Homo sapiens: one gene and its partners. The protein of the gene in region 1 purifies or fractionates together with the protein of each later gene. This does not show direct contact. Each region holds a gene or a part of one and is shown in the gene's direction. Other genes may lie near its edges. The genes, in order: SUPV3L1, DNAJC17 and ARMC1.

The links.
Region 2: the proteins of SUPV3L1 (region 1) and DNAJC17 fractionate together in Homo sapiens (co-fractionation; one large-scale study listed by BioGRID). This does not show direct contact.
Region 3: the proteins of SUPV3L1 (region 1) and ARMC1 fractionate together in Homo sapiens (co-fractionation; one large-scale study listed by BioGRID). This does not show direct contact.

The regions. Positions count from the first base shown.
Region 1 is NC_000010.11:69,200,734-69,204,233, forward strand, and holds part of SUPV3L1 (ATP-dependent RNA helicase SUPV3L1, mitochondrial), read left to right. Parts: intron 1-1,705; coding exon 1,706-1,786; intron 1,787-2,133; coding exon 2,134-2,310; intron 2,311-3,500. UniProt on the Homo sapiens protein: Major helicase player in mitochondrial RNA metabolism. Component of the mitochondrial degradosome (mtEXO) complex, that degrades 3' overhang double-stranded RNA with a 3'-to-5' directionality in an ATP-dependent manner.
Region 2 is NC_000015.10:40,779,822-40,783,669, reverse strand, and holds part of DNAJC17 (dnaJ homolog subfamily C member 17), read left to right. Parts: intron 1-3,672; coding exon 3,673-3,742; intron 3,743-3,848. UniProt on the Homo sapiens protein: May negatively affect PAX8-induced thyroglobulin/TG transcription.
Region 3 is NC_000008.11:65,613,678-65,617,177, reverse strand, and holds part of ARMC1 (armadillo repeat-containing protein 1), read left to right. Parts: intron 1-3,500.

The DNA.
Region 1 (3,500 bases):
GAGCCTGATTTGCCTTTACTTCCTTCCGGAATCTAGCAGCGGGAAGGAACAGGGAGAAAAGCAGTTTCTTCAGCTGAGCACACAGAGCTACATTAGTGGACTGAAAAATGACCAGAAGCCTGAATATAGACGAAACCTTGTATTGCTTGGGGCAAAAACAGCCCTAAGCAATACAACTTCATCCAGTGAGGAGAAGGTTAAATTTTGGTTAATATTAGTTAATGAGTTAGAATTGTACATATTTGAAACAAACTTTCTAGTAATAGTCAAAATTTAAAGTTCCCTGGAAAATTCACTTACATGGCTTATCTCATTTGTGACACTAGATGAAGGGGAGTATAGACATGAGATCATACAGGGAGAAGCATGCAGGGAGAGAAGCTTCCAGGGGAAGGCTGTGCTGGAATCATTTCTGTAACTTCTCAGCAGTACAGTTAGGTTCGTGGTTGGCTCCTGTGACCTCCCTGCTTCCCTCCTGGGCACCTCATGTCTTGGACTCTTCTTCCCTCCCTTATGACTAATTTCTCTTGCCTCTTTTCTTCTGTCTTTTTCATTCACTTTCTCTCTCTGTTTCATACTTCATTCCTTATACTTTCCTGTGGCCATGTCCTAACGGTGTAATGTGTAGCTAAAGAGAACTCACTTCCAGTTTAAAAATGTTCTCATGTCTTTCTAGATGTATATATCTATGTTAGTTTTATTGCCTTGGTTAAAGTGACTGGGTTTTTCTTATTCATTTTAATTCAATGAGGAGAAATGAGACATGGAAAATGGTTTTACCCTGGAAAACAGGTTTTTCTTTCCTTTTTTTTTTTTTTTGAGATAGTGTTTCACTCTGTTACTCAGGCTTCAGTGCTGTGGCATGATCACGGCTCACGGTAACCCCAATCTCCTGAGCTCAGGAGAGCCTTGCACCTCAGCCTCTTGAGCAGCTGGGACTTCAGGTGCTCACCACCATGCTTGGCTGATTTTTTAAAAATTTTTTGTAGAGATGGGAATCTCCTTTTGTTGCCCAGGCTGATCTTGAACTACTGTCCTCAAGTAATCCTCCCACCTTGGCCTCCCAAAGTGTTGGGATTACAGGCATGAGCCACTGCACCTGGCCGTAAAATCTTTTTTTTTTTTTTAGACGGAGTCTTGCTCTGTCGCCAGGCTGGAGTGCAGTGGCGCGATCTCGGCTCACTGCAAGCTCTGCCTGCTGGGTTCAAGTGATTCTCATGCCTCAGCCTCCCGAGTAGCTGGGATTACAGGCACGCAGCACCACACCCAGCTAATTTTTGCATTTTTAGTAGAGACGGGGTTTCACCATGTTGGGCAGGATGGTCTCAATCTCCTGACCTCGTGATCCGCCCACCTTGGCCTCCCAAAGTGCTGGGATTACAGGCATGAGCCACCACACCCAGCCCATAAAATCATTTTTTGTACACTGCCAGATCATCATAGGTTTTAGAAATATAACTAAAATGTAAGCAAAAGACTAATTTCTCAGTGGCCATAATCTGTCATTTTTACTAAATCATCAACTTTTCTAATTGGTAATAAATGGTAAAATGATATTTTTTCTCTTTTACTCAAATTCTTGGCATTTACTTCATATGGTGAGAGCTTAGCCTGAATGGGACTTTATCGTGCAATAACTTAAGAAAATTTGTCCTTTTTGAAAAAAAAAAAATCAGCTTATGATTGTTTTTTCTTTTACTAAAAGGCAGCTGGTCTTCATCCAACTGCTGAGCAGATTGAAATGTTTGCCTACCATCTCCCTGATGCAACACTGTCCAATCTCATTGTAAGTGGAAACTCCCTTTCACATCTCCCCTAAAAATGTTGATATGTCAGGTGATTACTGGTTAACCTCATGAGCATGAATGGATAGTCTGCCTTTGAGAAGTTGCTATTTATAAAATTTATTTTACAAGTGAAAATTTTTTCTCAAAATCTTTTGGGACTTTAGCCCTGAGGAATTTCCTCTCAGTATTTCAGGTGGGGAAGGATATGAGGGAGTGATTAAAGCAAGCCTTTATGGAAGTTTGTTCTGGATTAAAGAGATTGTCTTTTATAGACTTGAGTATGTTATTCATTGTTCATTTTAATTCACTTAGGCAGTCCAGTAATTTCTGTCTTTTTTTCCCCAAGGATATTTTTGTAGACTTTTCACAAGTTGATGGGCAGTATTTTGTCTGCAATATGGATGATTTTAAATTTTCTGCAGAGTTGATCCAGCATATTCCACTAAGTCTGCGAGTGAGGTATGTTTTCTGCACAGCTCCTATCAACAAGAAGCAGCCTTTTGTGTGTTCTTCACTGTTACAGGTAAGCCTTTATCTTTAAGCTATTTTGAGTTCCTTCTGGTTGATGCAGGTTCCCCAAACAGTACTTTGTTATTCAAAATAAAATAATTACAAGAGTATTCAGTAATATGAGAGACTTTGTAAAAACTTAAATAGGGGTTAATAGTAGCAACAGTGTTCAGTTTTCTTAAGTGTAAAGCACTGAGCCAGGGGTTACTGTCTTGTATGAGCACCATGCCAGGGTTCTAGCCTCTTTTAACTCATTTGGGTAGGGATGCAAATCTCTGACTTCTGAGAAGCACAGGATTCCTGGGGGCCAGGAAGGACAGTGGACTATGGAGAACCATAAATCTCTACCAAGGCCGGGTGCAGTGGCTCACGCCTGTAATCCCAGCACTTTGGGAGGCCGAGGCGGGTGGATCACTTGAGGTCAGGAATTCGAGACCAGCCTGGCCAAGCTGGTGAAACCCTGTCTCTACTAAAAATACAAAAATTATCCGGGCATGGTGGTGGGCACCTGTAATCCCAGCTACTCGGGAGGCTGAGGCAGGAGAATCACTTAAACCAAGGAGGCAGAGGTTGCAGTGAGCCAAGATCGCACCATTGCACTCCAGCCTGGGTGACAGAGCGAGACTCTGTCTCAAAAAAAAAAAAAACAAAACTCTACCAAGGTTTATCATAACAATACTTTTATTTAATTTAATTTTATTTATTTTATATTTGAGGCAGGGTCTTGCTCTGTTGCCCAGGCTGGAGTGCAATGGTGCAATCACAGCTCACTGCAACCTCAACCTCCCTGGCTCAAGTGATCCTGCCACCTCAGCCTCCCAAGTAGCTGGGACTACAGGCATGTGCCACCATGCCCAGCTAATTTTTGCATTTTTTGTAGAGACAGATCTCTCTATGTTACCCAGGCTGGTCTCGAGCTCCTGGAGGCAAGTGATCATCCCACCTCAGCCTCCCAAAGTGCTGGGATTACAGGCATGAGCCACCTAGTCCAGCCTAATATTTTAATTATTAAAAATGTTTTTGAAAGGATCCAAATGTCCAACAAGAGGGAAAAGGTTAACTACATTATGGCATATCCACTTGATTGGATATTAGGAAGACATTGCAATGATAATTATGATTATAATGAAGAAATCTACATAAGTGGTTACACTATAACAGTAAGTGAGGGAAGCGGTTCAGAACTGTATGTACCTTATAAAC
Region 2 (3,848 bases), on another chromosome or scaffold:
CTGGTCTCAAACTCCAGACCTCAAGTGATCCACCCACCTCGGCCTCCCACAGCGATGGGATTAGAGGTGTGAGCCACCATGCCCAGCCTAAACCACTTTAAAAGAGCCCCATGATACAAAAGAAAACATCTTCCACAAAACCCCCCTACATCCCTGGGGCAAGCCTACTAGTCCTAGTCCTGAGGAAGTTCATCTTGAAGGTAGTGTTGCAGGTGATGCCATAGATACTGGGACATGGACCGCCTCCCCCTCCCTTCCTCTCACCCATCCCAGAGAGAGGGTGGAGATAGGATCAGAGAGGAGGGGCCCAGAGGCCAGGAACAAACACCCAACAGACTCCTGTCAGTGTGTGTAGGTGCTTTTATATGTGTTAATGAACCTTGATGTCAGAGGGCTGGGGAGATTGAGAAAGAACATCTTTATAATGTTTTTGGTATTGTTTTACTTATTGAAAAAAAGCAAACAGGGGCCCTGAAATATAAAATATGTTCAGTAAAGGAATGAGGCTGGAGGCACAATAAAGCAGGCAAAGAGAGCAAAAGAAAGAAAAGACGAATGATAAGGGACCTAAAAAGTAAAGATGATATATTGCAAAGATGACACTGTCTTAAGCTAGCACCTCCTTTCCCTTAATATTGTTCTTTTTTGTAGTGAAAACAGAGCTAGGCAGGGAGGGTTAGGGTGGGAGGTGAGCAGGCAGGGCAGATGTGCTTCGGTGGGCGATTGGGAAGGCAGGTGGCACGTCTACACCCTCTCTGCCCAGCGCCTGTCCTGGGTGGTTCCTGCTGCCTCCAAGGCAGTCAGGAGAACCAAACAGCTTGGGCTGCCATGGCAGGTGCCCTGGCTATGGCCCAGCAGGTGGCAGCACACCCCTAGAGGTCCTGGGCCCGGTGGCTGCCTCATGGATGGAGGAGTTGCCCAGCAGGTGCTCACCTTGTGGATGCTGGCTGCTTACCTCTGAAAGTCCTTATTTAGCACACTTGGGTGTAGAAGCGTTTCTTGCGTCCATCTTGGAAGCTTAGAAATCCAATCTGCTTAGCTCTTCCTCCAGGAGGTTTGAGCAGCAGGTAACACACACCAAGCAGAAGGGAGAAAGCAAAGGCCTTGGAGGCAGAGGACGGATTCTGGGGTTGTGTACACTGTCTTCACTTACAACAGCTATTAGGTAGCACACGAAAGAGAATCTTGGTAGCTGTGTTTATTTTTACTTATGTAAGAAATATTGGGGTTTCTTTCTTTCTATGTATTTAAGAGAGAGTCTTGCTCTGTCACCCAGGCTGGAGTGCAGTGGCATCATCATAGCTCACGGCAGCCTCAAAATCCTTGGCTGAGGTGATCCTCCCTCCTCAACCTCCTTAGTAGCTGGTACTGCAGGCACGCACCACTATGCCTGGCTAATTTTTTATTTTATTTTAATTTAATTTAAAATTTTTTTATTTTTATTTTTGAGACAAGGTCTCACTCTGTCACCTAGGCTGAAATGCAGTGGTGTGAACATGCTCACTACAGCTTCAACCTCCCGGGCTCCAGTGATCCTCCCACCTCAGCCTCCTGAGTAGGGGGACAAAGGCACATGCTACCACACCTGGCTCATGTTTAAAAAATTTTTGTAGAGATGAGGTCTTGCCATGTTGCCCAGGCTTGGCTGGAACTCCTGGGCTCAAGCGATCCTCTCGCCTCAACCGCCTGAGTAGCTGGGACTACAGGCATGCACCACCACACCTGACAAAAAAAAATTTTTTTTTTTTGAGACAGAGTCTCATTCTGTCTCCCAGGCTGCAGTGCAATGGTGTGATCTCGGCTCACTGCAACCTCTGCCTCCCAGGTTCAAGCGATTCTCCTGCCTCAGCCTCTCGAGTAGCTGGGACTACAGGCGCCCGCCACCATGCCTGGCTAATTTTTTTGTATTTTTAGTAGAGACGGGGTTTCACCGTGTTAGCCGGGATGGTCTCAATCTCCTGACCTCGTGATCCACCTGTCTCGGCCTCCCAAAGTGCTGGGATTACAGGCTTGAGCCACCGCACCTGGACTAAACTCAAAAGTTTATAATAAGATCTATGTCAGAACATGGATACCTCTGTCTACTATAATATTTTATTTAAAAAAAATTTTAATAAGCGTGGCAAATTCCTGAACAAACTTTTTGAAATTTATTTTTTATTATTTTTTTGAGACAAGGTCTCCCTCTGTCACTCAGGCTAGAGTACAATGGCATGATCTCGGCTCACTGCAACCTCCGCCTCTGGGGCTCAAGTGATTCTCCTGCCTCAGCCTCCCAAGTAGCTGGGTCTACAGGTGCACGCCACCATGCCCGGCTAATTTTTGTATTTTTAATAGAGACAGGGTTTTGCTTTGTTGGCGAGGCTGGTCTCGAACTCCTGACCTCAAGTGATCTGCCCACCTCAGCCTCCCAAAGTGCCAGGATTACAGGCATGAGGATTACAGGATTACATGCCAGGATTACAGGATTACACCATGTCTGGCCAATCATAATCTTTTTTTTTTTTTTTTTTTTTCTGAGATGGAGTCTCGCTCTTGTCCCACAGGCTGGAGTGTAGTGGCACAATCTTGGCTCACTGCAACCTCTGCCTCCTGCATGAATCAAGCGATTCTCATGCCTCAGCCTCCCAAGTAGGGGGATTACAGGGGAATATGTCATCACACCCAGCTAATTTTTGTATTTTTAGTAGAGATGGGGTTTCGCCATGTTGGCCAGGCTGGTCTCCTACTCCTGACCTCAAGTGATCCACCCGCCTCAGCCTCCCAAAGTGCTGTGATTACAGGCGTGAGCCACCATGTCCGGCCTCAATCATAATCTTTTATTTTATTTTTTATTTTATTTTATTTTATTTTATTTGAGACAGAGTCTTGCTCTGTCGCCAGGCCGGAGTGTAGTGGTGCGATTTCGGCTCACTGCAACCTCCGCCTCCTCGGTTCAAGCGATTCTCCTGCCTCAGCCTCCCAAGTAGCTGGGATTACAGCTGCCCGCCACTATGCCTAGCTAATTTTTGTATATTTAGTAGAGATGGAGTTTCACTATGTTAGTGAGGCTGGTCTCAAACTCCTGACCTCAGGTGATCTGTCCACCTCAGCCTCCCAAAGTGCTGGGATGACAGGCGTGAGCCACCGCACCGGCCAATCATAATCTTTTAAATGAGTCTCCCCGTTGATGGGGATCTTGGCTGGCTAGTATCAACAGTGTTGTAGAGAGCATCCTTGTATATTTATTTTTGCCATACTTCTACAAGTCCAGATTCCTAGGACTTGGGTCAAAGGGAAAGAACATTTTAAATTTTGATGGCTGAATTTTCTTCCAGATAGGTTGCCCCAGTTTATATGCCCACCAAGAATGTGTAGAGTACCTGTCTTCGAGTGGCTGTCGAGAAAGCGGGGTACTGTGCTCCTGCCTGTTGCAGCAGCCCCTGGACATCTGCAGTGGTGAGGTTGAGCACTTAGCAGGAGGTGGGCCCAGCTCCTGTGCTGGGCGACAGTGGCTCACTCCCTCCATGGCCTTGGCCTCCTCCATTGCCAGTCTCCCTGGTGGCTAGGAAGTGGGCGCCAGCAGCTTCTCTTTTAGGTGTGCATGGGATTCCCCTTACCCATTGAGCAAGGTTTTCCTGTTTGTCCCTGGGATGAGAGTGAATGGCCATGTCTTCTGTCTGACTCTTCCAGGTAAAGAAGGCGTATAGGCAGAAGGCCCTCTCCTGCCACCCAGACAAAAATCCAGATAATCCCAGAGCAGGTGAGACTCTTCTCAGGGCGTGGGGAGAAAGAAACCCACTCACCCGGGCATTGTGTTTCCCGATGTAAGCTCTGCATGTGAGTGCTGTGGGGTGTAAGCACACATT
Region 3 (3,500 bases), on another chromosome or scaffold:
CTATTCGACAAAACCGCCATCGTCATCATGGCCCGTTCTCAATGAGCTGTTGGGTACACCTCCCAGACAGGGTGGCCGCCGGGCAGAGGGGCTCCTCACTTCCCAGAAGGGGCGGCTGGGCAGAAGCGCCCCCCACCTCCCGGACGGGGTGGCTGGCCGGGCGGGGGCTGCCCCCCGCCTCCCTCCTGGATGGGGCGGCTGCCGGGCGGAGACGCTCCTCACTTCCCAGACGGGGCAGCTGCCGGGCGGAGGGGCTCCTCACTTCTCAGACGGGGCGGCTGCCGGGCGGAGGGGCTCCTCACTTCTCAGACAGGGCGGCTGCCGGGTGGAGGGGCTCCTCACTTCTCAGACAGGGCGGCCGGGCAGAGACGCTCCTCACCTCCCAGACGGGGTCGCGGCTGGGCAGAGGCGCTCCTCACATCCCAGACGGGGCGGCGGGGCAGAGGCGCTCCCCACATCTCAGACTATGGGTGGCCGGGCAGAGACGCTCCTCACTTCCTAGACGTGATGGCGGCCGGGAAGAGGCGCTCCTCACTTCCCAGACTGGGCAGCCGGGCAGAGGCACTCCTCACATCCCAGACGATGGGCGGCCAGGCAGAGACGCTCCTCACTTCCCAGACGGGGTGGCGGCCGGGCAGAGGCTGCAATCTCGGCACTTTGGGAGGCCAAGGCAGGCGGCTGGGAGGTGGAGGTTGTAGCCAGCCGAGATTACGCCACTGCACTCCAGCCTGGGCACCATTGAGCACTGAGTGAACCAGACTCCGTCTGCCATCCCGGCACCTCGGGAGGCCGAGGCTGGCAGATCACTCGTGGTTAGGAGCTGGAGACCAGCCCGGCCAACACAGCGAAACCCCCTCTCCACCAAAAAAATACGAAAACCAGTCAGGCGTGGCAGCGCGTGCCTGCAATCGCAGGCACTCGGCAGGCTGAGGCAGGAGAATCAGGCAGGGAGGTTGTAGTGAGCCGAGATGGCAGCAGTACAGTCCAGCTTCCGCTCGGCATCAGAGGGAGACCGGGAAGAGGGGAGAGGGGAGAGGGAATTACTGTTACAGTTTTTATGCAAAACAGAAAGATAATTTATGTTTTAGTATTTTAATATTTTTTGTCACTATTGCTTCATTAAGCATATTAAACAGTTTTGAAATAATCCAGGTTTTCAAAAAATGTATGACAGTTATTGGATGTTTTATTATGTGTTATGATTCATTTTCTAGTTGATGCAAAACTATTGACAATGGAAAGGAGTAACAATAATACAGTTTTTCTTTCTTCTTTTTTTTTTGTGACGGAGTCTTGCTCTTGTTGCCCACGCTGGAGTGCAATGGCATGATCTCGGCCCACTGCAACCTCCGCCTCCTGGGTTCAAGTGATTCTCCTGCCTCCACCGCCTGAGTAGCTGGGATTACAGGCACCCACCACCACACCTGGCTACTTTATTTTATTTTATTTTATTTATTCATTTTTTCTTTTTAAGAGGGAGCCTCATTCTGTCACCCAGGCTGGCGTGCAGTCGTAGGATCTTGGCTCGCTGCAACCTCCATCTCCCAGGTCCAAGTGATTCTCCTGCCTCAGCCCCCTGAGTAGCTGGGATTATAGACACCTGCCACCACGCCCAGCTAGTTTTTGTGCTTTTTTAGTAGAGACGGGGTTTCGCCATGTTGGCCAGGCTGGGCTCGAACTCCTAACCTCAGGTGATCCACCCACCTCAGCCTCACAAAGTGTTGGAATTACAGGCATGAGCCACTGTACCCGGCCCTGTTTTTTTTTTTTTTTTTTTAACTTAAGTTCGTAAGTTTCTCTAATCATTGTCTCTTCATGCTCTTTATAACTTGTTCTTGGTTAATATTTAAAATATCTGAGAACTGCAGTGACTTTTCAATAAACTCTAAAATAGCTATCAATAAAAATGCTGAGGCAACTAATACAAATTAGTCCTTTTGATAGCTTTCTGTAACACACGGCTAAAGTCACCCAAAGTAACTTATCTCTGTGGTCAACAGTGGCTCAGAAAAGCACTTGATATAGTAATTGAGTGTCTGGAATACTGTCAGATTATCACCCCTGGAATTAAAGCTCTAAGTAGCTAGAACATATACAATCTGAGTATCAGAAATTGAAGTATTCCTACTCATTCACTAAATAACTTGCAAACATTTTTGTTAGGTTCTATGGAAGGTACAAAAAGGATACCTTCCTCCTCTTAAAGAGTTCATATACTTATAAAAGAAATAGAAAATTAAGATCAGTAGTATAAGTACAAGCATAGTACTCTGAATGCAAAGGGAGAATTGGGTTATTAGGTAGAGGCATTATATAGAAGGTGTTGGTCAAGCTGACCCTTCAAGCATTGAAATAAGAGTTGGAAAGCCTGCAGTCTGGGTGAAGCTCTTCCAGCTAAGGAAAGACCTGAACAAAACTTAAGGGTAGAAAGCATTCTAGAACAAAGAACATATAAAAATGCATGGTCTTTGTAGGAGATGGCCAAGTGTCATAGTCAACCCAAAGAATAATAGAAGGACAAAATGAGCTGATGGAGATAGCCAAATGGGGCCAGATTTTAAGGCCTTGAGTGTACATTAAAGGGTTTGGACTTAGTTGAGCCCATTGATAGGTGAAATGAGGATTCTTTTCTTACAGTTACATGTACTTACTCTTTGTTCAGTTCCACTAATAAGAGCCATTAGACTGTGCTGTCCAGTATGGTTAGCCACTCACTCTGTTTGGCAATTTAAATTAATTAAAGGTAAATTAATTTTTTTTAGTTGCACTAGCCACATTTCAAGTGCTCAGTAGCCTCATGTGAGTGGAGAGTGCAGCTATAGAACATTTCTATCATTGCAGAAAGATTATTGGACAGCACAGTCCCCTAGATGTTGATGTGAGGATCTGTAGTAGGATTTAAAAGCTTAAGAATGAAAACTTTTGTTAGAGCTGTGGTTTTATGATAAACACATAATTTGTAATATGTAAAAAATGTAAATTAAAAAATTGGTTTTAACATACAAAGAAATCTTGAAATTAGTTGATAGTATGAATGATCCTTTTCAAATTTGGTTTCTCCTTTTGGATTTTTATATGTTGTATTTTCTTAAAAGTCAAGGTACTTTCAAATTGAGAGTTGAATGTTAGTGATAATACAGGAACATGTTACAACCTGATCTTGTTAGTTGATTTTGTATTTGATTATTTTTATTAAACGTGTGGTTTTTTTTTTTTTTGAGATGGAGTCTCCCTCTGTCACCCAGGCTGGAGCCCAGTGGTGTGATCTGAGCTTGCTGCAACTTCTGCCTCCCGGGTTCAAGTGATTCTCCTCTCTCAGACTCCTGAGTAGCTGGGATTACAGGCATGCGCCACCACACCCAGCTAATTTTTGTATTTTAGTAGAGATGGGGTTTCAGTATGTTGGTCAGGCTTGAACTCCTGACCTCAAGTGATCCACCTGCCTTGGCCTCCCAAAGTGCTGGGTTTACAGGCATGAGCCACTGTGCCTGGCCAAATGT